Linked DNA regions of Homo sapiens. The protein of the gene in region 5 purifies or fractionates together with the protein of the main gene of each other region. This does not show direct contact. Each region holds a gene or a part of one and is shown on either strand. Other genes may lie near its edges.

What was found.
Region 1: the proteins of DDX20 (region 5) and LSM11 purify together in Homo sapiens (affinity purification with mass spectrometry; 2 studies listed by BioGRID and IntAct, with this or other methods). This does not show direct contact.
Region 2: the proteins of DDX20 (region 5) and WRAP53 purify together in Homo sapiens (co-immunoprecipitation; one study listed by IntAct). This does not show direct contact.
Region 3: the proteins of DDX20 (region 5) and CPSF7 purify together in Homo sapiens (affinity purification with mass spectrometry; one large-scale study listed by BioGRID and IntAct). This does not show direct contact.
Region 4: the proteins of DDX20 (region 5) and PHAX purify together in Homo sapiens (affinity purification with mass spectrometry; 2 studies listed by BioGRID and IntAct, with this or other methods). This does not show direct contact.
Region 6: the proteins of DDX20 (region 5) and HDAC11 purify together in Homo sapiens (affinity purification with western blotting; one study listed by BioGRID and IntAct). This does not show direct contact.
Region 7: the proteins of DDX20 (region 5) and USO1 purify together in Homo sapiens (affinity purification with mass spectrometry; 2 studies listed by BioGRID and IntAct, with this or other methods). This does not show direct contact.

The regions. Positions count from the first base shown.
Region 1 is NC_000005.10:157,746,712-157,750,211, reverse strand, and holds part of LSM11 (U7 snRNA-associated Sm-like protein LSm11), read right to left. Parts: intron 1-3,500. UniProt on the Homo sapiens protein: Component of the U7 snRNP complex that is involved in the histone 3'-end pre-mRNA processing. Increases U7 snRNA levels but not histone 3'-end pre-mRNA processing activity, when overexpressed. Required for cell cycle progression from G1 to S phases.
Region 2 is NC_000017.11:7,694,977-7,698,476, forward strand, and holds part of WRAP53 (telomerase Cajal body protein 1), read left to right. Parts: intron 1-3,500. UniProt on the Homo sapiens protein: RNA chaperone that plays a key role in telomere maintenance and RNA localization to Cajal bodies. Specifically recognizes and binds the Cajal body box (CAB box) present in both small Cajal body RNAs (scaRNAs) and telomerase RNA template component (TERC).
Region 3 is NC_000011.10:61,412,976-61,416,475, forward strand, and holds part of CPSF7 (cleavage and polyadenylation specificity factor subunit 7), read right to left. Parts: coding exon 3,130-3,500; intron 2,810-3,129; coding exon 2,691-2,809; intron 1-2,690.
Region 4 is NC_000005.10:126,607,447-126,610,946, reverse strand, and holds part of PHAX (phosphorylated adapter RNA export protein), read right to left. Parts: intron 2,584-3,500; coding exon 2,463-2,583; intron 1-2,462. UniProt on the Homo sapiens protein: A phosphoprotein adapter involved in the XPO1-mediated U snRNA export from the nucleus.
Region 5 is NC_000001.11:111,762,401-111,765,900, reverse strand, and holds part of DDX20 (probable ATP-dependent RNA helicase DDX20), read right to left. Parts: intron 3,225-3,500; coding exon 3,119-3,224; intron 2,996-3,118; coding exon 2,894-2,995; intron 165-2,893; coding exon 1-164.
Region 6 is NC_000003.12:13,497,306-13,500,805, reverse strand, and holds part of HDAC11 (histone deacetylase 11), read right to left. Parts: intron 2,294-3,500; coding exon 2,251-2,293; intron 94-2,250; coding exon 17-93; intron 1-16. UniProt on the Homo sapiens protein: Responsible for the deacetylation of lysine residues on the N-terminal part of the core histones (H2A, H2B, H3 and H4).
Region 7 is NC_000004.12:75,731,077-75,734,576, forward strand, and holds part of USO1 (general vesicular transport factor p115), read left to right. Parts: intron 1-3,500. UniProt on the Homo sapiens protein: General vesicular transport factor required for intercisternal transport in the Golgi stack; it is required for transcytotic fusion and/or subsequent binding of the vesicles to the target membrane.

The DNA.
Region 1 (3,500 bases), on a different chromosome or scaffold from region 5:
TGGCACAATCACAGCTCACTCCAGCCTTGACCTCCCTGGCTCAAGCGATCCCCCTAGCTCAACCCACTGAGTAGCTGGGACTACAGGCACGCACTACGCACCCCCAATCTCTCTCTCTTTCTCGTGCGTACACAGTCTCACTCTTTCCCAAGTTTGCAACGCAAAATTCTGTAGAAAGTTTATTTTTGGTCAGGTCTTAGAAGTCTGGATATATAGAGTATTTGGCATTGACAGTAGACAAATGAAAAATCTCTCCTGCTTTGTTTCTAGTGACATAAAGGAGAACAACAGTCCTGCACTTCAGTTTGGATAACTAAATTGGTTCCTCCTGAAGCCACCTTATCCCTCTGTCATGGATTGGCTTATAAATGATGGCTGTGATAAATTAATAAAAGATTCTTAGAAGAAAATGACTTAGCAGACTAGCAGGAGTTTATGTCAGATTAACGGTGTGAGAATAACTCGGAGTTGGAAGCGACACGAAGCAGTGACTTTGGAAAAGACCATGAGAATTCTGGTCTGACCATCATCATTTACCTCTCTTCTAGCAGTATTTTAAAGTCCTTTGTACATTTGCTAGCTAAGGGTGTGTATGGGTGTGTGGGTGTGTGTGTGTGTGTGTGCGCGCGTGCGCGCGCGTGTATATGTGTTATAGGCCATATTAAATCAAGCATTCAAGCATTGTAAACAATTTTCAGGTCATTATAACTAGTTGTGTGAACCTGATGAATAACTTTTTCTTTAAGTTCCAAATTTCCTCATTCATAAAATGAGGTTAAGATAGTTAACTTGTAGATTTATTTCAGGACTAAGTCCCAATAACTCAATTTCTTAGAAACTGATCACATGCTTGCATTATTTCTTTTCCTACACATACATATATACTGCCCCCTGCCCTATGATGTATGTTTATACAAAGAGTGGAAAGACTATTTTTTTCTAACTTGGAAAAAAACAGGGACATTACTTCTTTCCCACACCTCCAAAAATAGAAAGGGCAAGCAGGTATCTTAGCAACAGTCTCTTACTCTAATTAAATAGATGGCAAATTCAGGTCTTTCAATTGGTCTTTCTCAAACGTGTACCTTTAATTTTTTTCTTCCAAAGATTTAATAAGGTGTAATTCCAGGAAGCATTGCTCTCCTTGTATCCTTGTGTGATCAAAAGTACGACACTAGCACCACCTATCAGAGCAAACCGCCAAGGCAAAAATGAGCTCCCCATTCTGAATCAGAGTGCACATTCTCTTTCCAGCCGTCTCTGTGGCAAGCTCCAAATGGATATGAGTCAGGTTTCTATGACCAAATATGACAAAAAAGCATATGCCTTATCTTTGGAGAAAGTTACTCTTCCAATCCCCTTCTCTATTGCCACATCCTTCCAGATCCAGGTCATTTTCAGCTCCACTCTTCCTTCTCCTGCTACATGTAAATTATACCATCACAGCCTGATTTTAAAATAACTGTTCTCAATCATGCCCTTCTTTAAAGACCTAAAACTTGCCTCTTACAGTAACTCTTGTTTTCCTTAGAAAGAAATATTTAATAGGAATGTAGGAACAGAAGCCACGTCTGCGTCTCAGGTGGCGGCAAAACAAGATGGTGGATCCCCGTGCCATGACCCCCAGATGCAGGGCTTATATGCTACAGGGAAAGGGTGATTCAGAAGGGATGTGTAGGACAATTGAAGTAAGATAACGTCAAGGTTGTTCTCATGTAAGGACAGGAATTACAGTAAGTACATGCTCTTACACAAGAAACAACAGATAAATTGGAAATCTTAGAGGCCTTCCCAGAACTGGGTTTAATCAGAAGTCAACATGGTGGACTGGCATTCAAGATGGAGTTGCTTTAGCCTCCACAACTACCTATTCAAAGATTTAAGGACAAAACTGTATCTACATATATATCTCCAAATATACAAAGTTATTAGCTCATTAGGGCAAAGGCAGCTCCCCAGATTCCATAACCTATTAAGGGCCCAGAGAAATGAAACCACAAACTGTAACAGTCACCTTATGAGTCTGCAATGGAAAAATATTTTCTCTTTTCTCTGAAAATAGTTTTAGTTGCCATTCTATAGAAGGGTGCCATGACAGATTGAAAGTACAATGTTTGAATCAGTGACCCGGCAAAGGCACATCAGTGTCTTCCCTATTGTGATGCTATGTCAAACTGGCCTAAACACACACACACACACACACACACACACACACACAGCAGTGTGGTGCAGAAATCATCTGAGACTATTCCTTAGTTGCACTGGAGACAGCTGACTGGAAACAGCTGCAATGAGCTGAGAAAAGTGACAAGGCTGAATTTTAAGCTTGGCCTTTTCTGAAGCCTAAGTACCGCTGTTCTCGGTTTTATGTAAGTCATACTCATGCCCTTTTGGCAACCTCTGTGTAACAGAGATGCTGTTCAAATTTGAGAGTTCATTTTACTGCTGTACACAGGGCTCAGATGTTCTTGATTTTGCCTATTTTCTTGCTCTTTATTTGCAGGAAGTGAAGTCAAAGTTATCCAAAGAATATCACTTTATTAAAATGAAAACATCAAGACACCATATTGTGGGAAATTATTTCAGCAATCAAAGTAAACTACAACAACAGGACTCAAACAAATTTTCAATCATGGTATCACGTCAGAGGCCCAATAAATCAGGTTTGTTTTGAAATCCTTCTCAGCAGGATGTGTGCGAGTAAAAGGACTGTGTAGGCTCCCTGCAGGAAAACTGAATTTGGAACTGGAGACAAGCCATTCACCTAGACAATGGTCTAGGAGCCAAACCCTGCATGTCATATGCATTTTGGATTGACCACACACACTTGTTCACACCGGCACAGGCTGCACACCAACACACCTGTAGCTAAAACAAAGTAATGATAACACTTTTTCTTACAGCTTTATAATGTCAAGACGTGAGCTTGAACACACCAGTTCATTTCACAGTGACAGATATACCTAGAAAAAGCTTGCTTGAAGCACAATTATAAACCAGAACCACCGTGGGCTAGGTATGGTGCTGCGATACTAAGGAGAAATATAGACACTAGAATTATGTGGAAAAGAGGATAATGCTCTTTAGTCTTGTCTTACCATCTCTATAGGCATGTCAATATTAAAAAGGAGGAAAAGCAATTGCATTCCACTTGCAAGTACAGCTTGTGTGTGAGTTCTTTGTTGGTATCAGTGATGGCTTAGGCTTAATGATGACGAAAAACCTTTCCTCCTATGCTTTTTTTCTTCTTTAGTATTCCCAGTATTGCAACAGCCTCCTATACTTTTATTATTACTTTTTTTTGAGACCTCGTATCACCTCTGTAGAGGTCTCTATGATGTCCCTATGATCTCGGCTCACTGCAGCTTCCACTTACAGGGTTCAAGCGATTCTCGTGCCTCATCCTCCTGAACAGCTGGAACTAGAGGCAGATGCTGCCATGCCCAACTAATTTTTGTATTTTTAGTAGAGACAGGGTTTCACCACGTTGGCCAGGCTGG
Region 2 (3,500 bases), on a different chromosome or scaffold from region 5:
GAGTCTTGCTGTGTCCCCCAGGCTGGAGTGCAGTGGCGCGATCTCAGCTCACTGCAAGCTCCGCCTCCCGGGTTCACGCCATTCTCCTGCCTCAGCCTCTCGAGTAGCTGGGACTACACGCACCCACTGCCACCACGCCAGGCTAATTTTTTGTATTTTTAGTACAGTCGGGGTTTCACCATGTTAGCCAGGATGGTCTCGATCTCCTGACCTCGTGATCCGCCCGCCTTGGCCTCTCAAAGTGCTGGGATTACAGGCGTGAGCCACTGCACCCGGCCTTAAATAGATAAAATTTGTATAGGTCAGAAAATTGGGGAAGGGTGTATTTGGGTATTTCCATATACTTGTGTGTACTGAGTCTTCTTCCCAATATAGTTTCTCGGGTTTTCTCCTTTCTTTTCCACCTTTTCACAGAACTTTCTGCAAGTCTCATTTCCAGCTCCCCAGCGTCTTTCCTGAGTACTTGCCCTGCCCCGTGGGTCTTGCAGGAAGCCTTTACTCCTCGTCTTGCCCTCTCCAGGAGACACTTTGCATCCTCTGTACCCTTTATCTCTCAGGGTGGGGACGGGGAATGTCCTCATTCCCAAATGCTGTAGCCACACAATTGCTCTTTCGTCTTTGTGAAACTTTTCCCTTGAGGCTTATGCTGATTCTCTCTCCCGCTGACGACGTTGGCACTGTACAGCCTTCCGGTGCTCTCCTGTTCGCCCGCCATTTTGGTGACCTCAGGTATCCAAGCCAAAAGCCAGGGTCTCTCTCATCCTTTAATCTTTAATCTCCCTGTTCCTAACCCCTCACATCCAATTACTTCCCAAATCCCATCAAGTCTGCCTAATCTTCCTAATCCACCCACATCTGTCCCTCCCACTGCCTCTACTTTAATTCAAGGTCCTATTATTTTGGGCCTTATGTTGCTGAAACAGTCTCCTGCCTCCTTTTGCTCATTAAAACCGTATTTGTTGACTCTGCTTATTCTGCACCACGTGTTGGGGAAGCAGTGGTGAGAGCGAGGCAGATGTGATTCCCTCCTTCTCTGATAGGTATGACGGAAGGGGAGTGAGGAGCACCAGGGGCTATAGGAAAGAGGAACAGGGGCGCCTTGCTTAGCTGGAGGGGTTAGGGAAGCGTTCCCAGAGGAAGAAGCATCTAAGAGACCTGAAGGATGACTAGGATTCAGCCAGGAGGAGTCGTTGGGGGAGATGAAGGAAGAATATTCCAGACTTGGAGCCTAGGACATGTGAAAGCCAGTGGGTTGAAAGTGTGGCGAGTTGGCACTTTATGGGACCTGAGAGTCAAAATGGCGGGACTCAGAGATTTTTTTTTTTTTTTTTTTTTTTTTTGAAATGGAGTCTTGCTCTGTCGCCCAGGCTGGAGTGCAGTGGCGCGATCTGGGTTCACTGCAAGCTCCGCCTCCCAGGTTCACGCCATTCTCCTGCCTCAGCCTCCCGAGTAGCTGGGACTACAGGCGCCCGCCACCACGCCTGGCTAATTTTTTGTGTTTTTAGTAGACACGGGGTTTCACCACGTTAGCCAGGATGGTCTCGATCTCCTGACCTTGTGATCCGCCCGCCTTGGCCTCCCAAAGTGCTGGGATTACTGGCGTGAGCCACTGCGCCCGGTCAGGACTCAGAGATTTTTATGGGAATTAGCAGATAGAGATAAGCCTTGAGAGGTGGGTCGGGGGTAGCACGTGGTAATGGAAGACTAGGAGGAGGAACTGGCAAGATTTGGTATTGGGTTGGACCAGGAGTGGAAAGGAAGTGAAGAGTGGTAGCAGTCAAGGCTGGTGCTCAGATTTCAGGATTGAGCACTGGTGTGGAGTCCAGGAGGAACAGCAGGTTTGATGGTGGTGGATGCCGGGCCTATTATGGACAAATTGAGTTTGAGGAACCTGTGGGATGATCAAGTGGCACTGTCCACCAGGCAGTTGGATATATGGGTTCAGAGTATAGAGGTGGACACTGAAGTCCTGGCTGGTTGACATCAGCCTGAGGCCCAGAAGACAACTGACGAAGGACAGTGTCCAGACTATTTATCTCTCACAAATCAGTAAGAAAAAGACGGCTGGGCATGGTGGCTCATGCCTGTAATCCCAGCACTTTGGGAAGCCGAGGCAGGTGGATCACCCGAGGTCAGGAGTTCAAGACCAGCCTGACCAACATGGCAAAATCCCGTCTCTACTAAAAATACAAAAATTAGCCGGGTGTGGTGGCAGGCGCCTGTAATCCCAGCTACTCAGGAGGCTGAGGCAGGAGAATTGCTTGAACCTGGGAGGTGGAGGTAGTAGTGAGCCGAGATCGTGCCACTGCACTCCAGCCTGGGGACAGAGGGAGACTCTGCCTCCAAAAAAAAAAAAAGAAAAGAAAAAGAAAAAAGAGAAGAAAAGAAAAAGACAACAACTGGTCAGGCATGGTGGCTCACACCTGTAATCCCCACTTTGGGAGGCCGAGGTAGGCAGATCACTTGAGGCTGGGAGTTTGAGACCAGCCTGGCCAACATGGTGAAACCCCATCTCTACTAAAAAGTATAAAAATTAGCCGGGCGTGGTGGCAAATGCCTGTGGTCCCGGCTCCTTGGGAGGCTGAGGCATGAGAGTCGCTTGAACCCAGGAGGCAGAGGTTGTAGTGAGCCAAGATCGTGCCACTGCACCCCAGCTTGGGGAACAGAGAAAGACTCTGTCTCAAAAAGAAAAAAAAAGAAAAAGAAAATGGGCAAAATTTATGAAAAGGTGTACCTAACTAAATGGCCAGTAAACATAGAGGAAATATCTAATCTCTCTTATAGTAATGATGGAAATACAAATTTATGCTGTAATGAAATACCATTTCACCACCTTCAAATTGAGAAAAATGTAAAAGTCTGGCAATACCAAGAAGATAAAGAACAATAGACACTTTTTTTTTTTTTTGGAGACAGGATCTTGTTCTGTTGCCCAGGCTGGAGTGCAGTGGTGCGAACATGGCACACTGTAGCCTCAAACTCCTGGGGTCAAGCAGTCCTCCTGCCTCACTCTCCCAAACAGGTGGGACTACAAGTATGCCAATATGCCTGACTAATTTTTTAATTTTTTGTAAAACTGGGGTCTTGCTATATTGCCCAGGCTAGAATAGAGACTCTTATACACTGCTGGTGGGAGAGGACATTGGGACAAGTGCTTTGGGAAAGAAATTGACATTATAGTATCTTACAAAGTTTGCAAAGTGCATAGCGTAGAGACCAGTAATTTTACTCTTCAGCAGAAACTGTAGAGAAACCCTTCTACATGTGTACAGAATGTTAAAGCACACTAGCCAAAAAACAGAAAAACATCAGTGATTCTAAATAGAAGAAGGGTAGATCAGTTTGAATATATTCATGAGTAGAGTACTATACACCAGTGAAAATGCATGAATTAGAGCAAAATGTGTTTCCATGGTTAAAGCTTGCTATCACAGAGGGATGTATATGATATAATACCATTACTGTTAAGTCTAGGCCGGGCATGGTGGCTCATGCTTGTA
Region 3 (3,500 bases), on a different chromosome or scaffold from region 5:
GATGGGTCTTGTTTTATCATCCAGGCTGAAGAGCAGTGGTATGATCATAGCTCACTGCATCCTTGAACTCCTGGGCTCAAGCCATCCTCCTGCATGCCACTTCACCTGGCTTATTTTTCAAAAATTTTTTGTAGAGATGGGGTCTCACTATGTTGACCAGGCTGGTCTTGAATTCCTGGCCTCAAGTGATCCTCCTGCCTGGGCCTCCTAAAGTGCTGGGATTATAGGTATGAGCCACTGTACCTCATGAGACTTTCTAAATAATGTGTATTTCTACAAGTTATTTTTAACCTACCATCAGATGTATGTGTGTATATATATGATATTTACATAAAACATGTATGCGTAGTATATGTATACATTAAAAAAATTATGGCTGGATGCAGTGGCTCACACTTGTAATCCCAGCACTTTGGGAGGCCGAGGTGGGCGGATCACTTGAAGCCAGAGTTCGAGACCAGCCTGGCCAAAATGGTGAAACCCGGTCTCTACTAAAAATACAAAAACTAGCTAGGCAGTGTGGCATGCACCTGTAATGCCAGTTATTTGGGGGGCTGAGGCAGGAGAATTGCTTAAATCTGGGAGGGAGAGGTTGCAGTGAGTCGGGATCAGACCACTGCACTACTCCAGCTTGGGCAATAGAGCCAGACTTCGTCTCAAAAAAAAAAAAAAAAAATTTATGCTGTCATAAAAAACTAGGCCTTTCATTTCCCAACTCTGAGTAATGCCTGGCTCAGGGATAGTGGTCATGGGGCGGGTACCTACACTTTGCTTTTCCAAGCTAAGTCAAGAGCATTAAGGACAAAAGTTAATACAAAGAAAATATGAATTCAGGCAGGGGTCCAGTGAAAATGAAGCCTGGCAGCTTCCTCTGTGCAAGGCAACAAGAACAGAAACTATGGAGAAACTGTCCAGTGGAGGCACAAGAATATGAAGACATCAGCTCCATCCTGGCAGGGAATTTTTGCCTGTTTTTGTAGTATCTTCAATAAGTATTTGTGGTTTGAATGACTGGAATGAGAACAACAGGAGATCAAGATTCAGTTATTGATCATCTTAGTGTGAAAGGGTTGATGAGGAAGAAGGAACAATGAGTACTTTCTTTATACTGTTCTGTGTATTTAACCCATATAACCCATGGGTATATATTACTTTTTAATTTAAAAAGACTAATTTTTTTTTTTTTTTTTTTGAGACACAGTTTCACTCTGTTACCCAGGCTGGAGTGCAGTGGCACAATCTCGGCTCACCACAACCTCCACGCCCTGGGTTCAAGCAATTCTCAATTCTCGTGCCTCAGCCTCCCAAGTAGCTGGGTCTATAGGCATGTGCCACCATGCCTGGCTTATTTTTGTATTATTAGTAGAGATGGGGTTTTGCCATGCTGGTCTCAAACTCCTGACCTCAAGTGATTTACCGGCCTTGGCCTCCCAAAGTGCTGGGACTACAGGCATGAGCCACTGCACCTGGCCTAAAAAAGACTAATTTAGATGTCAATGTAGATTTTTCTGGTGGGAAAAAAATGAAGGGAACATATGTACTTTCTGTCTTTAACCTTCTCTGTGGATTCAAGTTTGGCAAGATGATGCAAAGATGAAAACTGATGGAAAGCAGATGATAATATTTAGGGCTAACTTATTTCTTAGGAGATCTGATAATCTACAGACATTTACATTCATGTAGGAAACTCACAGGAAGGAAGTGAATATGGCTAATGTCACGATGTGAAAACCGGACCAGAACTCTGAAACTTCCTGTAGCCTCTTCTTTTAGAAACTAAAGATCTTATGCTCAGGGCTTTCAGAATCATGGCTGCTGGTTCTACCCACTTAATAATGAGAGCAGGGCAAAAGTTAGCTGTAAGGGCATAACATGCCTTAAGATGACATCTACAGACTTGCCTCTTTTTAGGATAGGCTACCTACCAGCTCTGCTTAGACTCCTAAATGTAATCAGATTTCATAGCAAACCATTATCTAGGCTGGACGTGGTGGCTCACACCTGTAATCCTAGCACTTTGGGAGGCCGAGACAGGCGGATCACTTGTGGTCAGGAGTTCAAGACCATCCTGGCCAATATGATGAAACCCTGTCTCTACAAAAAAATACAAAAATTAGCCGGGCGTGGTGGCAAGTGCCTGTAATCCCAGCTACTTGGGAGGCTGAGGCAGGAGAATCGCTTGAAACCAGGAGGTGGAGGCTGTAGTGAGCCAAGATTGCACCACTGCACTCCAGCCTGGGCGACAGGGCAAGACTCCCTCTCAAAACAAACAAACAAAAAAACACATTATCCAGTCAAAACATCATTCCTAAAGAAGACCCAGGGTCTATATCTGGTATTGGGTCTACTACACAGACACTAGATCTAAAGATCAACCACTGAGATGGAGATTTCCACAAGGCAGGAATTTCACTCTACAGCAAACACCACATCGAGATGGTATTAATTATTTATATTCTAGGCATTAAGTTGGTTTTCATGAGGGCAGGCCTAGATACAGACTAAGTAATACTGCCGGAGCTTCCCCAAGGCCAAGAAATCAGGTTACATATTGCTCTTCAAAGTATGCCGCTCTTGATATCTACAGTACTCCAACTTTATCTTGTTGAACTTTTGCCAGTAGAAATGACAAAATCAGGAAAAAAAAGTAAAGGTTAAGGAGAAGGCAGCAAAGGTAAGCACTGAGTTACCTGCACTGGCTCCAGATACTGCTTTGGAAATGGCACTGCTGGAAATTGCTCTGTTTCGCTTCATGATATCTTCAAATTCGGCTTCACTCACTGTAGAGGGTGGAGGGCCCGAATCTCGGCTGTACAGAGAAAATACCATCCTTGATTGCTCACATCCCTTATTATTTTTACTGTACTCTACAACACTTTGGTAATTTTGGCATAACACAGAACAATGCTAGACATCTGTAGCATTCATAACACCTGCTCCCGCATTTAATTAAGCACCTTAAAAAGGGGTATAAAGGACATGGTACTACTTCCCAGGAGTCAATGCTATGATAACAGAATGTCTATAAGGGAAAGAACAAGGATTCAGTGCTCACTTTCTCAGGGAGAATAAAATGCTTAATACACTTATTTACCCTGGCTCAAATCTGAAAGGAACAATAGTCCTTACCTGCCATGGTGGTTATAGGGGGCAGAGGCCTTCATGTAAGTATCTGGTGGAGGCCCCACTGTAGCGTTTGGTGGGGGGAAGAAGGCTGGATTGAGGTGAAGGGCAGGTGGGATGGCCCCAGGGGGAGGTACAGCAAGATGAGGAGGTAATCGAGGAGGTGGGGGCATGAGATGCTGGTAGTGGATACCAGGAGGAGGAGGAGGGACCCCAAAGCTTGAGGAGAGAGGTGGTGGGGGTGGAATTGGTGGTGGGGGCAGACCCATCAGGGGAAGGGCCGAAGGAGGACGATTGAAGTAGGGCAGCACACTGGGGGGCTTATCCACACGAGCAGATGAGGGTACAAGGTTCTCAGAGGGTGTGGCCCGTCCATC
Region 4 (3,500 bases), on a different chromosome or scaffold from region 5:
TTCCTTGAGCTCACAAGTTCAAAACCAGCCTGGGCAACATGGTAAAACTCCATCTCTACTAAAAACACAAAAAATTAGCCAAGCGCGGTGGCACGCACCTGCAATCCCAGCTACTCAGAAGGCTGAGGTGGGGGATGGCTTGAGCCTGGGAGGTGGAGGATACAGTGAGCTGAGATCGCGCCACTGTACTCCAGCCTGGGCAAGAGAGCCAGACTGTGTCTCAAAAAATAAAATAAAATAAGAAAGTAAATTTGAACTTGCATCTTCCCAATATTCAGTAAATCTGCATTAGCTCACTGGAATATAAAGTTTTATCACTACAGTACTAAAATATTGATGAAATCTGTAACTCTGTGTTCAACTGAATGAAAATTGAAGTACTTTAACAATGACACAAATAGGGATGGCAGTGCATTCATGATTATTATAATTTCTTTTGTTGCTAACTTCTGTTTTGACTTCTGTAATTTATGTTCACAGGCTGTTTCCTTAGCCAATGCTATTAATCCTAACTGGGTTTTTTTTCTCCCCATGTCCAAAGCACAATATTGATCTACTCCCTTGTGATGTTATTACAGTATTCAGACTTATCAGTAACAAAAAACAAGGAAGTCATTCAAACCTTCATCCTCACCCTGTGGTGAAAGCTGAATTCAATGAGATATGCCAAACCCTTCTATAACCGCCAGTGCTCGTGATCTGGCCTAGCCAGAGGAGCTCTTTCTGTCATTCTGAAACAGTAAAGAGCTTCTCAAACTTTTCTCCCATTATTGCTCTACCACCCCAGGAACTTTTTAGACTTCCCCCAACTTTCATTCTTATACCCAGGAAATTTTAATACACACAAAAATACTGTATACCTATTTGTACTTTATTGTGTATCTATCTGTGCTTACATAACAAAAGTGTTGACCGGGCACAGTGGCTCAAGCCTGTAATCCCAGCACTTTGGGAGGCCGAGGCAGGCGGATTGCCTGAGCTCAGGAGTTCTCAACCAGCCTAGGCAACATGGTGAAAGCCTGCCTCTACTAAAATACAAAAACTAGCTGGGCGTGGTGGCAGGCTATAGTCCCAGCATACTTGGGAGGCTGAGGCAGGGGAATTGCTTGAACTCGGGAGATGGAGGTTTCAGTGAGCTGAGATCGTGCCACTGCACTCCAGCCTGGGCGACAGAGTGAGATTCCGTCTCAAAAAACAAACAAACAAAAAAAAGGGTGTTTTGTTTTTTTTTTTTGCCCTCTTTTTCAAGAATGCATGAATTAAGTGAACCAAAATGAACACTTCTGTTTACCATTGCTAAAGTGCTGGGCACTGTGGTCAGTATTTCATGTGCACCATCTCCTCTAATCCTTAAAATGTAGGACTAATCTCCATTTTACAGCTGAGGAGACTGAGGCTCCAAGAAGTCAAACAACTTAGCCGAATTTCAATTAGTATGTTGAAAATCTAGAAGTAAAAAAGGGTACCCAAACTCTAAAACCCATATTCTCAAGATCTGAGCTCCTAGGCTCCCCTAGACTTTGTCGTCTTAAAACTTCAACCCTTTGGCCGGGTGCAGTGGCTCACGCCTGTAATCCCAGCACTTTGGGAGGCCGAGCTGGGTGGATTGCCTAAGGTCAGGAGTTTGAGACCAGCCTGGGCAACATGGTGAAACCCCGTCTCTACTAAAAATACAAACGTTAGCCGGGTGTGGTGGTGCATGCCTGTGATCTCAGCTACTTGGGGGGCTGAGGCAGGAGAATTGCTTGAACTCGGGAGGCGGAGGTTGCAGTGAGCCGAGATTGCGCCACTGCACTCCAGTCTGGGCGACAGAGCGAGACTCCTTCTCAAAAAAAAAAAAAAAAAAAAAAATTCAACCCCTACCTTTAACAAATCATGTAAGAAATGTTTTGGTGACTATACGGCAACAGGCTATAATTTATGTTTGTTTGTTTGTTTTTTTGTCAGGGAAGTACTAACTGCAAAAACAACTGTACTAATTTTTTTTTCTTTTTATTCTTTTTTTTTTTGAGACGGAGTTTCGCTCCTGTTGCCCAGGATGGAGTGCAAGGGTGCGATCTCAGCTCACTGAAACCTCTGGTCTCTCAGGTTCAAGTGATTCTCCTGCCTCAGCCTCCTGAGTAGCTGCGATTACAGGTATGTGCCACCACGCTTGGCTAATTTTGTATTTTTAGTAGAGACAGGGTTTCTCCATGTTGGTCAGGCTGGTCTCGAACTCCCGATCTCAGGTGATCGGCCCGCCTCAGCCTCCCAAAGTGCTAGGAATACAGGCTTGAGCCACCGTGCCTGGCAACTAATTTTTTTTTAACAGTCTTCATTGTTGATAATAGTTTAAAAACTTCAAACATACTGTAAGAATGCATGATAAATCACAGATCCAACAAGGGCAAAGTTAAATTTGTAATCAAAAACAAAAACACAGGATAAACAATACAAAAACAAAAACAGTTAAGCAGTCTTACCATTATAAAGAGACCACCATTTTGTTCAACTTCAGCGGTTTCCATCAGAAGTTCAATTGCCTTTTTGTTACCAATAATCCTCACTACTCGGGCTATCAGGTCTTTCTTTGGTTCCTGTAACCTGATGAGAAACAAGTAAAATTATCCTCTTTGTTTGTTGTACAAAGTTGAAGAAATCTACCTTAGTCACCAGCTAGAATAAAAATCTGATTCTAGTAACTTTTGGTTTTCTAAATCTTCAATATTTAATCTTGGAATCACTGACATGTAAATATTCCTAATCTTGGGTCACAGAAGGAGATGGTAACCTCAAGTTTCCATCTAAACTCTCATAATTGGCTTATTTGTCTTATTGGATTATAGCAGATTTCAAAATGCACATGCAGCACGATGAATGCAGGTCTGAATGCAAAAGATGATAAAGGCAGTCCACTATTGTCAAAATAAATAACAGACATATATACTTTCAATTATTACGCCTAAAAGCTAAGGCTCACATAATTCCAGAGATGTCTGGAGCTTTAAAATGGGATAGGACCTTTCCCTCATAGACTCCCTGCCTCAGAACAAAAAATAGAAACAGCTAATATTTACTGATGGCTTATTATGATTATAATAAGCACAATCCTAAGAACCTTACATGCACTATGCCAGCTGATTCTCTCAAGAATGTACAAGATAGGTACTATCGTTTTCATTTTGTCACTGAGAGGTTAGAAACATAGGTAGCCTAAGTAATTCTTCCAGTGTCAAAGCTCACACTCTCAACAGATCAAGAATTCAGCTGGGTGTGGTGGCTCACACCTATAATCCCAGCATTTTGGGAGGCCGAGGTGGGTGGATCACCTGAGGTTGGGAGTTCGAGACCAGTCTGACTAACGTGGAGAAACCCCGTCTTTACAAAAAATACAAAATTAGCTGGGTGTGGTGGCACATGCCTATAATCCCAGCTACTTGGGAGGCTGAGGCAGGAGAATTGCTTGAACCCTGAGGCTGAGGCAGAGGTTGCAGTGAGCCAAGATGGCACCACTGCACTCC
Region 5 (3,500 bases):
GTGGTCACCATGAGCTTTCTGAATTTGAAGGGTTCTCTCTATTTTCTGAATTTGCTTTTTTAAGGGTTGGTTAGGTACACTTGCTATACCATATGTATGCACAGCAGCTTTAACTTCCACATCCCAATCCACACATTCTTCCATCAGACCAGAAGGAATGGGATCTACATAAAAAGGAAGAAAAATGTATTAAAATTCTCAAGCTACTCTAGACCACTGTTTTCTGAATGATTTCATAAAGTTTTCTATGATCAAATACATTTAAGAAACAATATGCAAATATACTAAGATGTTTAATAGATATAACATTTTTAAAGACTGAAGCAATCCTGTAATAAAGAAACCTGCCTAAGAAATATGTAAGACCCATCCCATACTCACAAGCACTATCTCCCCTCACTCTCACTAGAAAAAGAGCTTACTCTAGGAGTAATGTACAAGCCTGCAACAATTCTCCCATCTTTTCTCTCCTCCCTCTCCACAGCCCCTCCCCTTTATCTCAATACTTCTGACAGCAAAACAAGATATTAGAAAATGGATTGTGCTCCCCAAAGCTTATCAACTAGGAAATAATACAACTGCAACTCTGTACACCCAACTAAATCTGTCACCCAATATTCCAACAGGGAGAAATCACTGCCCTTAACAATAAAGAGAAAACCTCTATAGGGGAAAAAACTAGATGACTATGAAAAGATCTGTGACTATGAAAATCAGAAATGACATTTCTAATTTTTAAAAAATTTGCTGGCTTCAACCCTCTAAATTTTCTATTCCATCCAGGTGTGACAATTTGCTTCCCACACTCAGACCTTTCAAAGTGTGATCAATTTTTGTCTTAGGCAGACAAGATATATCAAGCCCCTGCTTTACAAAGATCTTGCCTGTTGTTGCTATTTATGCTCCATGTTATCTATAAATCCCACAGGTCTGGATACTTCAATGAAGTCTCTTGATCCTTTGCTGAACAGATTCTATGATTAAAACTCTCATTCCTACTCAGTTGATATCCCTTGCTTGCCTAGTCCTATAATACAGGCCAATTTCCCTCCTAGTTCTGCCCCAGGAAACTCATCTGAACATCTGTTGTTACACAAGTTCCCAGTCCAATACAGACCTAACAGCATGAATATCATTTTCTCATGATTTCAGGGCCCTATTAACATTACATAAAGATCCAAATATATCATTTTCCAGTATCCAAAGGCAATTTTTATCACTAGATGCTATGATATTGAATCCTACAAGAAGTCTTAACCCTCTTCTACCAATTTTCAATTTTTTTCCCATATCAGACTACGAATAGACTTATACACAGAAAGAACTGACAGTTTTAGAACTGACATAGAGCCTAAAGACCATTTACTCTAAAGTACTTTGCAAATCAGGACTCTAAGCTTACAGCAATTACAGAGATTTGTAAAAGATCATAAAATGAGTTATTACTAACCCGATCTACTAGAATACATAGAACTCCCAGATCTGTGCTTAATCTAGCTCTGTAAAATAATTAAATATAAAGTCGGTAAAATACTCAATTATATTTATTCAATAACTACATATCCTATATTCTGCAAAGTCATGTATATACTATATGTGTATTTTTCTTTTTTTTTTTTGAGACTGAGTCTCGCACTTTCGCCCAGGCTGGAGTGCAATGGCGGATCTTGGCTCACTGCAAGCTCCACCTCCCAGGTTCATGCCATTCTCCGGCCTCAGCCTTCCAAGTAGCTGGGACTACAGACACCCACCACCATGCCCGGCTAATTTTCTGTATTTTTTTTTAGTAGAGACAGGGTTTCACTGTGTTAGCCAGGATGGTCTTGATCTCCTGACCTCGTCATCCGCCCGCCTCAGCCTCCCAAAGTGCTGGCATTACAGGCGTGACCTATATGTGTATTTTTCTATATAGACATACATCTATATATGAATAGACACTATTTATAGTGCACATTTTCTGTATAACATGCACGTCAAAAATGCCATATTTCCACTCAAGGGTTTTTTAGAATTTTTTGTTTTTAAGAGATCATTACTAGTTTTAAACATGCGTTGTTTCCAAGAGGGCACTTAAAAAGAAGCAGAACAAATGACTGAACTGAAATCAAAAGAAAACATTTCACTCCAATTTTTCAAAATAGTATTCAAATTAAAGATGCTGTTCTTTCCACATGGTGACAAAGGAGAATATGGCAAGAATTACCTTCACAACAATTTAAGAGGTAAAATATCCCCCCTTGTATCAAAGAATAAAATCAAATTGCAAAGCCACTAACTAATAAAATAGAGCTAACATAGCTCTCATTTTTCTTTCTTTTTTTTTTTTTTGAGACGGAGTTTCACTCTTGTTGCCCAGGTTGGAGTGCAATGGCTTGATTTCAGCTCACTGCAACCTCCACCTCCTGGGTTCAAGCGATTCTCCTGCCTCAGCCTCCCAAGTAGTTGGGATTACAGGCACCTGCCACCACGCCCAGCTAATTTTTGTATTTTTAGTAGAGAAGAGGTTTCACCACATTGACCAGGCTCGTCTTGAACTCCTGACCTCATGTGATCCACCTGTCCTGGCCTCCCAAAGTGCTGGGATTACAGGCGTGAGCCACTGCGCCTAGCCAGCTCTCATTTTTCATGTGCCAGTGGTTAGCTTGCACTCCTCTCCGTGCTACTTACTAGCTGTAACACCTTTACTTACCCTCTCTATGTCTAAATATCCTCATCTACAAAACAATTGCACACACCTCATAGGAGTGTGGTGAGAAGTAAATGAGTTAACGTACATACAGGACTGGGAACAGTACCCAGCACATCATAAGCACTCTGTTAGCTATTATTATCATTTTTATTATGCTTATCACCACTATAATTATTTTGAAATAATGAAACAGATGAAATGTACCTGGTAAAGGGAGAAGGTTGATATTACATTTCTGGGCAATTCTCATCATCATATTTTCTTCCTCTCCCCGGCAACAGTAGGTCACTGTCAGCCCCAATGTACCTAAAAGCAGAGAGAATGTTAGGTAGTAAATCATTTTCACAAAAATAATATTCAAAGCCCACCTGTCACATTATAGATCCCTCCCCTTAAAGAAAGCACTCAAACTTTTTTTTTTTTTTTTACCAAAACGGCCAGCTCTCCCAATCCGATGCATGTATGTCTCCCAATCCAATGGTACATCCAGATTTACAACCAGATTCACCTTCTCAGCATCAATCCCACGAGAAGTCTTGAATTGAAGAAGATAGCAATTATTTGTTTGCATTAACTATACAGCATGGATACCAATGCATATTATATTCTTCCAGTACAGTCAAGAGACAAATTAAGAACTGAATACTGAGGAGCAGAGGAAAAGGAAATTCATTCCTAATGACTAATTTCAAGGACAAAGATAAACATATTAAAGACATTTTTAAGAAAGTATTTTCCTCAGCACTGGAAAGATAATTATCTTCTGGTATTCTTGTTAGATACGCCTACATAAAATAATATATGAAATCTG
Region 6 (3,500 bases), on a different chromosome or scaffold from region 5:
TTGCTCATAGACACACCTTGATGGCGAGCGTGATGTCCGCATAGGCACAGAAGCCCCCGCCACGGTCGCTGGAGCAGTGGTGGAAGCCACCCCCTGCGGAAGGGCAGAGAGCGGTGCTGCTCAGAGCCAGGCTCCCAGGCTCAGTCCAGGAGCTCCTCCATCCCTTCACCTCCCCCAGCATCCTCCCTGCTCAGCTCTCAGGAACCTGTGCCTCGGACTCTGGGTTGGCAAACTAAGCTGAGTGCTGGGGCATGTCACCATCCCCAGGCCAGAAGGCAGCCACATCTTCAGGGTGTCCCCAGCAAGTCCTCAGTGCCACTCACACCCCTAAGCAACAGATAGCTCATCATTCCAGAAGCAGAAAGCTGCTCCTTGTCCCCACCAAGCTGGGCCTGGCTCCATGTGGCTCCCCACTCCAGGAAGGAGTGGTGGTATGGGGGCCACACGGATTCTGCCAGTGGCCAAAGCGGGTGGTCAGGAAGGGCACCCTCTGCTGGTCATGACTGCCTACAGCCACGAGGAGGGCCCTAGAGCCCGGGATCCATCACCCCTCAACCCTGAGACACAGCCTCAGAGCCCTAGGGCCCATAGATACCCCCTCCCCTGCAGCCCCTGGGATGGCCTGAATTGCAGAGGCCCTCTGAAATTGAGCCCAACAACTGCTCCGTCAGACAGTGTGCAGCTGGCCCCATGGATACCAGGAACTTGCCTCTCCCACCCCCCAGGAGGCTACTGTTGGCTCCTAATGATGAGAAGACAGCCACAGTGAACACCTGACTGAGCAACTGAGCTTGCTGAAGACTCCCTCCAGCCCGAGGAGGGGCATTAGCATCACCATCCCCATTTTACAGATGAGGAGACTGACCCACAGAGGAGGTCAGCAACTTGCCCAGGGTCACACAGCCAGGTAATGGCAGAACCAGGATCAAACCCAGGGTGGATCAGGATCCAGGCTCTTAACCTCTACCAGGCAGTAACACCTGCCATGGGGAGGGCCATCCAGGCCCTCCTCGGAACCCTGCTGTAGACACGCAGGGCACAGATCACTCCCGGGTTTGTGCAGCAGAGTACCATAACATCATTACTATGCCAGACTGAATGCTAGGCACCTGGTAATACCAAGATGGAAGAGACCCAGCCCCTGCAGAGTGGGGCTCCCCTCAACTGTGCAGTGGCCCAAGGTGGACTCTCCCCTGCAGAGTTCAGAGCCAAAGGCTGGGGGACCCTGCTTTAGGGCTCTACACGATCCAGTACGCATCTTTCCATGGCCATTTCCTCATCAGTGAGACAGGCCTGACAATTATGCCCAGCTCAAATAAGAGTCTGGGTGAAGGCCGGGCGTGGTGGCTCATGTCTGTAATCTTAGCACTTTGGGAGGCCGAGCGAGGTGGGCGTATCACCTGAGGTCGGGAGTTCAAGACCCAGCCTGACCAACATGGAGAAACCCTGTCTCTACTAAAAATACAAAATTAGCCGGGCATGGTGGTGCATGCCTGTAATCTCAGCTACTCAGGAGGCTGAGGCAGGAGAATTGTTTGAACCTGGGAGGCGGAGGTTGCGGTGAGCCGAGATCGCGCCATTGCACTCCAGCCTGGGCAACAAGAGTGAAACTACGTCTCGAAAAAGAAAAAAAGAGCCTGGTGAAAAAGAGCTTTGTAAATTGTCAAGTGCTGTGCCTCCAGGAGGGACAATGACAGGGACAAGGGAGACTCCCGTGCAGCCCTCCCATGAGCCAATCTTGTGGGAGATTCAAGGGGGCTGGGGAGCACGGGCCCTCTGGACCCTTGAGAAGGTGGTGGTATTGACCCAGGATGTGCCCACCCAACCCAACATGACCAAGCCTCTGTGGGCTGTCCTGGGCCCCAGGACACAGGTGGAGTCCTTCAGGGAAGACACAAGGCAGGCTTCAGACCATGCTGAGCTGCCCAAGGATGGCACACGCTCTCTGGAAGGGAGGAAGCTCCCTGCCACCGGAAGTACGCAAAGAGGGGGCTGGGGAACCACCCGGGGACCTCCTTAGACAAGGATCCCACGTCAGATGGAGGCACTGGTCAGTCTCTCCCAGGTACCTAGGAGGCTACACATCAACCTCCAGGCCACTCCACAAGGAGGCTAGGGTGACTTGGGAAAACCAGAGCTTCTGAATTCACAGCTGCCACCTCCAGGATCCTCCCGCCCTCCCCCAGCCCCCTTTCAGGCCAGTTCCACCAAGCCGGGCTGGACATTCCCGAGGACATTCCCAGCACTCACCCACGTTGATGGCCCAGCCTCGCTCCACAGCCAGCTTCCCCGCCTTTGGAGACAAGCAGAGGGTGAGGGGGCGCAGGCAGCCGATCCACCAGTCATTCATTCACTGATTCATGCACTCATTCCATAAACACTGCTTCTAGCCAGCTCTGGGGGAAGGATGAGCTGAGCTACAAGGCAGGGGTATAGAAGGAACTCCCTACCCCAAGCAACAGTCCAGGAAGTAAGTGCCAGCTTGGCTGGCATATGAGATGTACAGTGCATAAGCACCTTTGAAATTGTGCAAGGAAACTGGAAAAAATAAAAGTACTTATCATCCATCACATATGAGCTGACAATAATTTTGATATGGCTTTCAAAGGGAAAATAGGCAAAGTTTTGCTCACAGAAATACAGTAGACTGGGCCAGGCGCAGTGGCTCACGCCTGTAATCCCAGCACTTTGGGAGGCCGAGGCAGGCGGATCACTTGAGGTCAGGAGTTCAAGACCAGCCTCGCCAACATGGTGAAACCCCGTCTCTACTAAAAATACAAAAATTAGCCAGGCAGAGTGGCGTGTGCCTGTAATCCCAGCTACTCGGGAGGCTGAGGCAGGAGAATCACTTGAACCCAGGAGGCAGAGGTTGCAGTGAGCCAAGGTCACACCCCTGCACTCCAGCCTGGAGGACAGAGTGAGACTCTGTCTCAAAAAAAAAAAAAAAAAAAGCAAAAAAAGAAATATAGTAGACTAAATACTGAAATCTTCCAGGAAATCATAGTTTTGGGGATGGGCAGTAATATTCTACTAAGCTAAAGGAAAAAGTACAAATTTACAAACATAACAGAACTGTAGGGGATCAGTAGGTAGTGATCCAGGGCTGGGTTAGATCCTCATACATTTGCATGTGAAACATTCCTCTATCTCCAAATAACTAGGCAGTGTGTGGCACATTTTTTTAAAAAAACCACACACACAATGTGAAACCTAATTTTGCTGTGGGGATTCTTTGTTGCCACACCCGCAGTGGGGGAGACGTGGAGGCTTATTCATCACTGAAGTCATGGAGGATCAGTTCTCCATCTTAATTTTGGGTGCATTAGGGCTGGGCATGGTGGCTCAAAGCCTGTAATCCCAGTACTTTGGGAGGCCAAGGTGAGTGGATCATTTGAGGTCAGGAGTTCAAGACCAGCCTGGCCAACATGGTAAAACCCCGTCTCTACTAAAAATACAAAAATTAGCCAGGCATGGTGGCGAACACCTGTAGTCCCAGCTAC
Region 7 (3,500 bases), on a different chromosome or scaffold from region 5:
ATATTACTTGGCTGACTTAAGGTAACTATAATGGAAATGGATTCATTGGATTTGTCTACAAAGAGACTTGTGTTTGATTTTTTAATGTTCCCACATCTCTTTTTATAGATTATAATAATTTAGGTCATATGAAGATAAGATTTGCTTTTGCTGTTTTAATAAAGTCTTCTCAGTAACAGAGTTAAATTTAAAACAAATTTCTGGGCCAGGCCTGGTGGCTCACGCCTGTAATCCCAGCACTTTGGTAGGCTGAGGCGGGTGGATCACCTGAGGTCAGGAGTTTGAGACCAGCCTGGCCAACATGACGAAACCCTGTCTCTGCTAAAAATACAAAAATTAGCTGGACATGGTGGCAGGTGCCTGTAATCCCAGCTACTAGGGAGGCTGAGGCAGGAGAATCACTTGAACCCACGAGGTGGAGGTTACAATGAGCCAAGATCGCACCACTGCACTCTAGCCTGGGCAATGGAGTGAGACTCCGTCTCAAAAAAAAAAAAAAATGACTTTTGTAATCTAAAACAATAATATTTTTATTTCATCTAAAACATAAGTGAATTGACTATTAGCATGAATTATTTGTCTTACAGTTAGGGAAATTCTGTTTTAGGAAGGTACAACTATGTTTTAAATTTCAAGGTAAGATTATATCATAAAATTAAATCAATATTAGGTGCTTGACAAATATTTGTTGGATAAATGATTGATTGATTAGAGTTAGCATTTTAATTGCCATTCCTGTTCTTTATTTTTTCCTGTCAGTTAAGTAGTTACTGAATACTTAAAAAAAAGAATTGTGAAAAAATACTGCAAGCTGTATTACACTAGTGTCCTTTAATTTTTTTGCTTTTATATTTTTATAAACGATTAAACGTAAATTAGTATTGTTTCATAAGCAAATGTGTTTATGAAAATAAACATTTCTCTAAACAATATTTTTTCCCCATAACTTTAAAGTTTTAGAAGGTTACATGTGCAAGTTGTTACATGGGTAAATTGCCTGTTGCTAAGGTTTGATGTATAACCATCACCCAGGTAGTGAGGATGGTACCTGATGGGTAGTTTCTTAACTCTCGCCCCCTCTCCCACCTTCCCCCCGTTGTTGTCCCCAGTGTTGACTGCTCCCATCTTTAGGTCCGTGCTTACTCATTGTTTAGCTCCCACTTGTAAGTGAGGAAATGCAGTATTTGGTTTTCTGTTCCTATATTAATTCGCTTAGGATAATGGCTACCAGCTGCATCTATGTTGCTGCAAAGGGCATGATTTTATTCTTTTTCATGTCGACATAGTATTCCATGGCATATATGTACTGCATTTTCTTTATCCAGTCCACTATTGATGGACACCTAGGTTGACTCCACATCTTTGCAGTTGTGAATAGTGCTCCAGTGAATATGCAAGTGCATATGGCTTTTTGATAGAATGATTTATTTTTCTTTATTTTCCCTTATTTCATTAAAAACATTATAATTGAAATGACTATTAGCATGGATTATTTTAGTCTTACAATAAATAGTCATAGTTACTGGACGCAGTGGCTCAAGCCTGTAATCCCAGCACTTTGGGAGGCTGAGGCGGGCAGATCACGAGGTGAGGAGATCAAGACCATCCTGGCCAACATGGTGAAACCCCGTCTCTACTAAAAATACAAAAATTAGCTGGGCATGGTGGCACCTGTGCCTGTAATCCCAGCTACTTGGGAAGCTGAGGCAGGAGAATCACTTGAACCAGGGAGTTGGAGGTTGCAGTGAGCCAAGATCGCGCCACTGCACTCCAGCCTGGCGACAGAGCGAGATTCCATCTAAAAAAAAAAAAAAAAAAAAAAGTCATAGTTGGGGGAGTTCTGTTTTAGGAATGTTTTAAGCTTCATGAAGGTAAGGTTATATCATAAAATCACGTCTGTAGGGCCGGGTGCGGTGGCTCATGCCTATAATCTTAGCACTTTGGGAGGCCGAGGCGGGCAGATTACAAGGTCAGGAGTTCGAGACCAGCCTGGCCAATATGGTGAAACCCCGTCTCTACTACAAATACAAAAATTAGCCGGGCGTGGTGGCGGGCACCTGTAGTCCCAGCTACTTGGGAGGCTGAGGCAGGAGAATAGCTTGAACCCAGGAGGCAGAGGTTGCAGTGAGCCGAGATCACGCCACTGCAGTCCAGCCTGGGCAACACAGTGAGACTCTGTCTCAAAAAAAAAATTAAAAAAAATAAATTAAGTCTGTATTAGCTGCATGACAAATATTTGTTGAAAAAATACAGTAGTGAGACTGCTGGGTCGAATGGTAGTTCTGTTTTAAGTTCTTTGAGAGATATCCCAACTGCTCTCTACAGTGACTGAACTAAAATTACATTCCCACCAACAGTATATAGCATTCCCTTTTCTCTATAACCTCTCTAACATCTGTTTTTTGTTTGTTTGTTTTGTCTTTTTAATAATAGTCATTCTGACTGGTGGGAGATGGTATTTCACTGTGGTTTTGACTTGCATTTGTCAGATGATTTAGTGGTGTGGAACATTTTTCCATATATTTCTTGCCTATGTATATGTATTGTTTGGAGAAGTGTCTGTTCATGTCCTTTGCCCATTTTTTAAGAGTTTTTGGTTTTTGCCTGTTGAATTAAGTTCCTTACAGATTCTGAATATTAGACCTTTGTCAGATGCATGGTTTGCAGATGTTTTCTCCCAGGTTATAAGTTGTTTGTTTACTCTGTTGATAGTTTCTTTTGCTGTGCAGAAGCTCTTTAGTATAATTAGGTCCCACTTGTCAATTTTTGTTTTTGTCACAATTGCTTTTGGGCACTTAGTCATAAATTCTTTGCCAAGGCCAATGTCCAGGATGATATCTCCTAGATTTTCTTCGAGGATTTTTTTTTTTTTTTTTTTTTTTTTTGAGTAGGAGTCTGGCCCTGTCACCCAGGCTGGAGTGAGTGCAATGGTGCGATTGGCTCACTGCAACCTCTGCCTCCCGGATTCAAGCGATTCTCCTGCTTCAGCCTCCCAAGTAGCTGGGACTACAGATGCACACCACCACACCCAGATAATTTTTGTATTTTTAGTAGAGACAGGGTTTCACCATGTTGGCCAGGATGGTCTCGATCTCCTGACCTCGTGATCCTCCCACCTTGACCTCCCAAAGTGCTGGGATTACAGGCGTAAGCCACCATGCCCAGCCTCTTCTCGGCTTTTTATAGTTTTAGGTCTTATATTTATGTCTTTAATCCATCTTGAGTTAATTTTTGTATATGGTAAAAGGTAAGGGCCCAGTTTCATTCTTCTGCATAAGGCTATCCAGTTATCCCAGCACCATTTATTGGATAGGTAGTCCTTTCTCCATTGCTTGTTACTGTCAATTTTGTCAAAGATCAGATGGTTGTAGGTGTGTGGCTTTAGTTTTGGGTTCTCTATCCTGTTCCATTGCTCCATGTCTGTAATAGGCTGTTTTGGTTAGTGTAGCTTTGTAGTATAGTTTGAAGTGGGGTAGTGTGATTTTTCCAGCTTTGTTCTT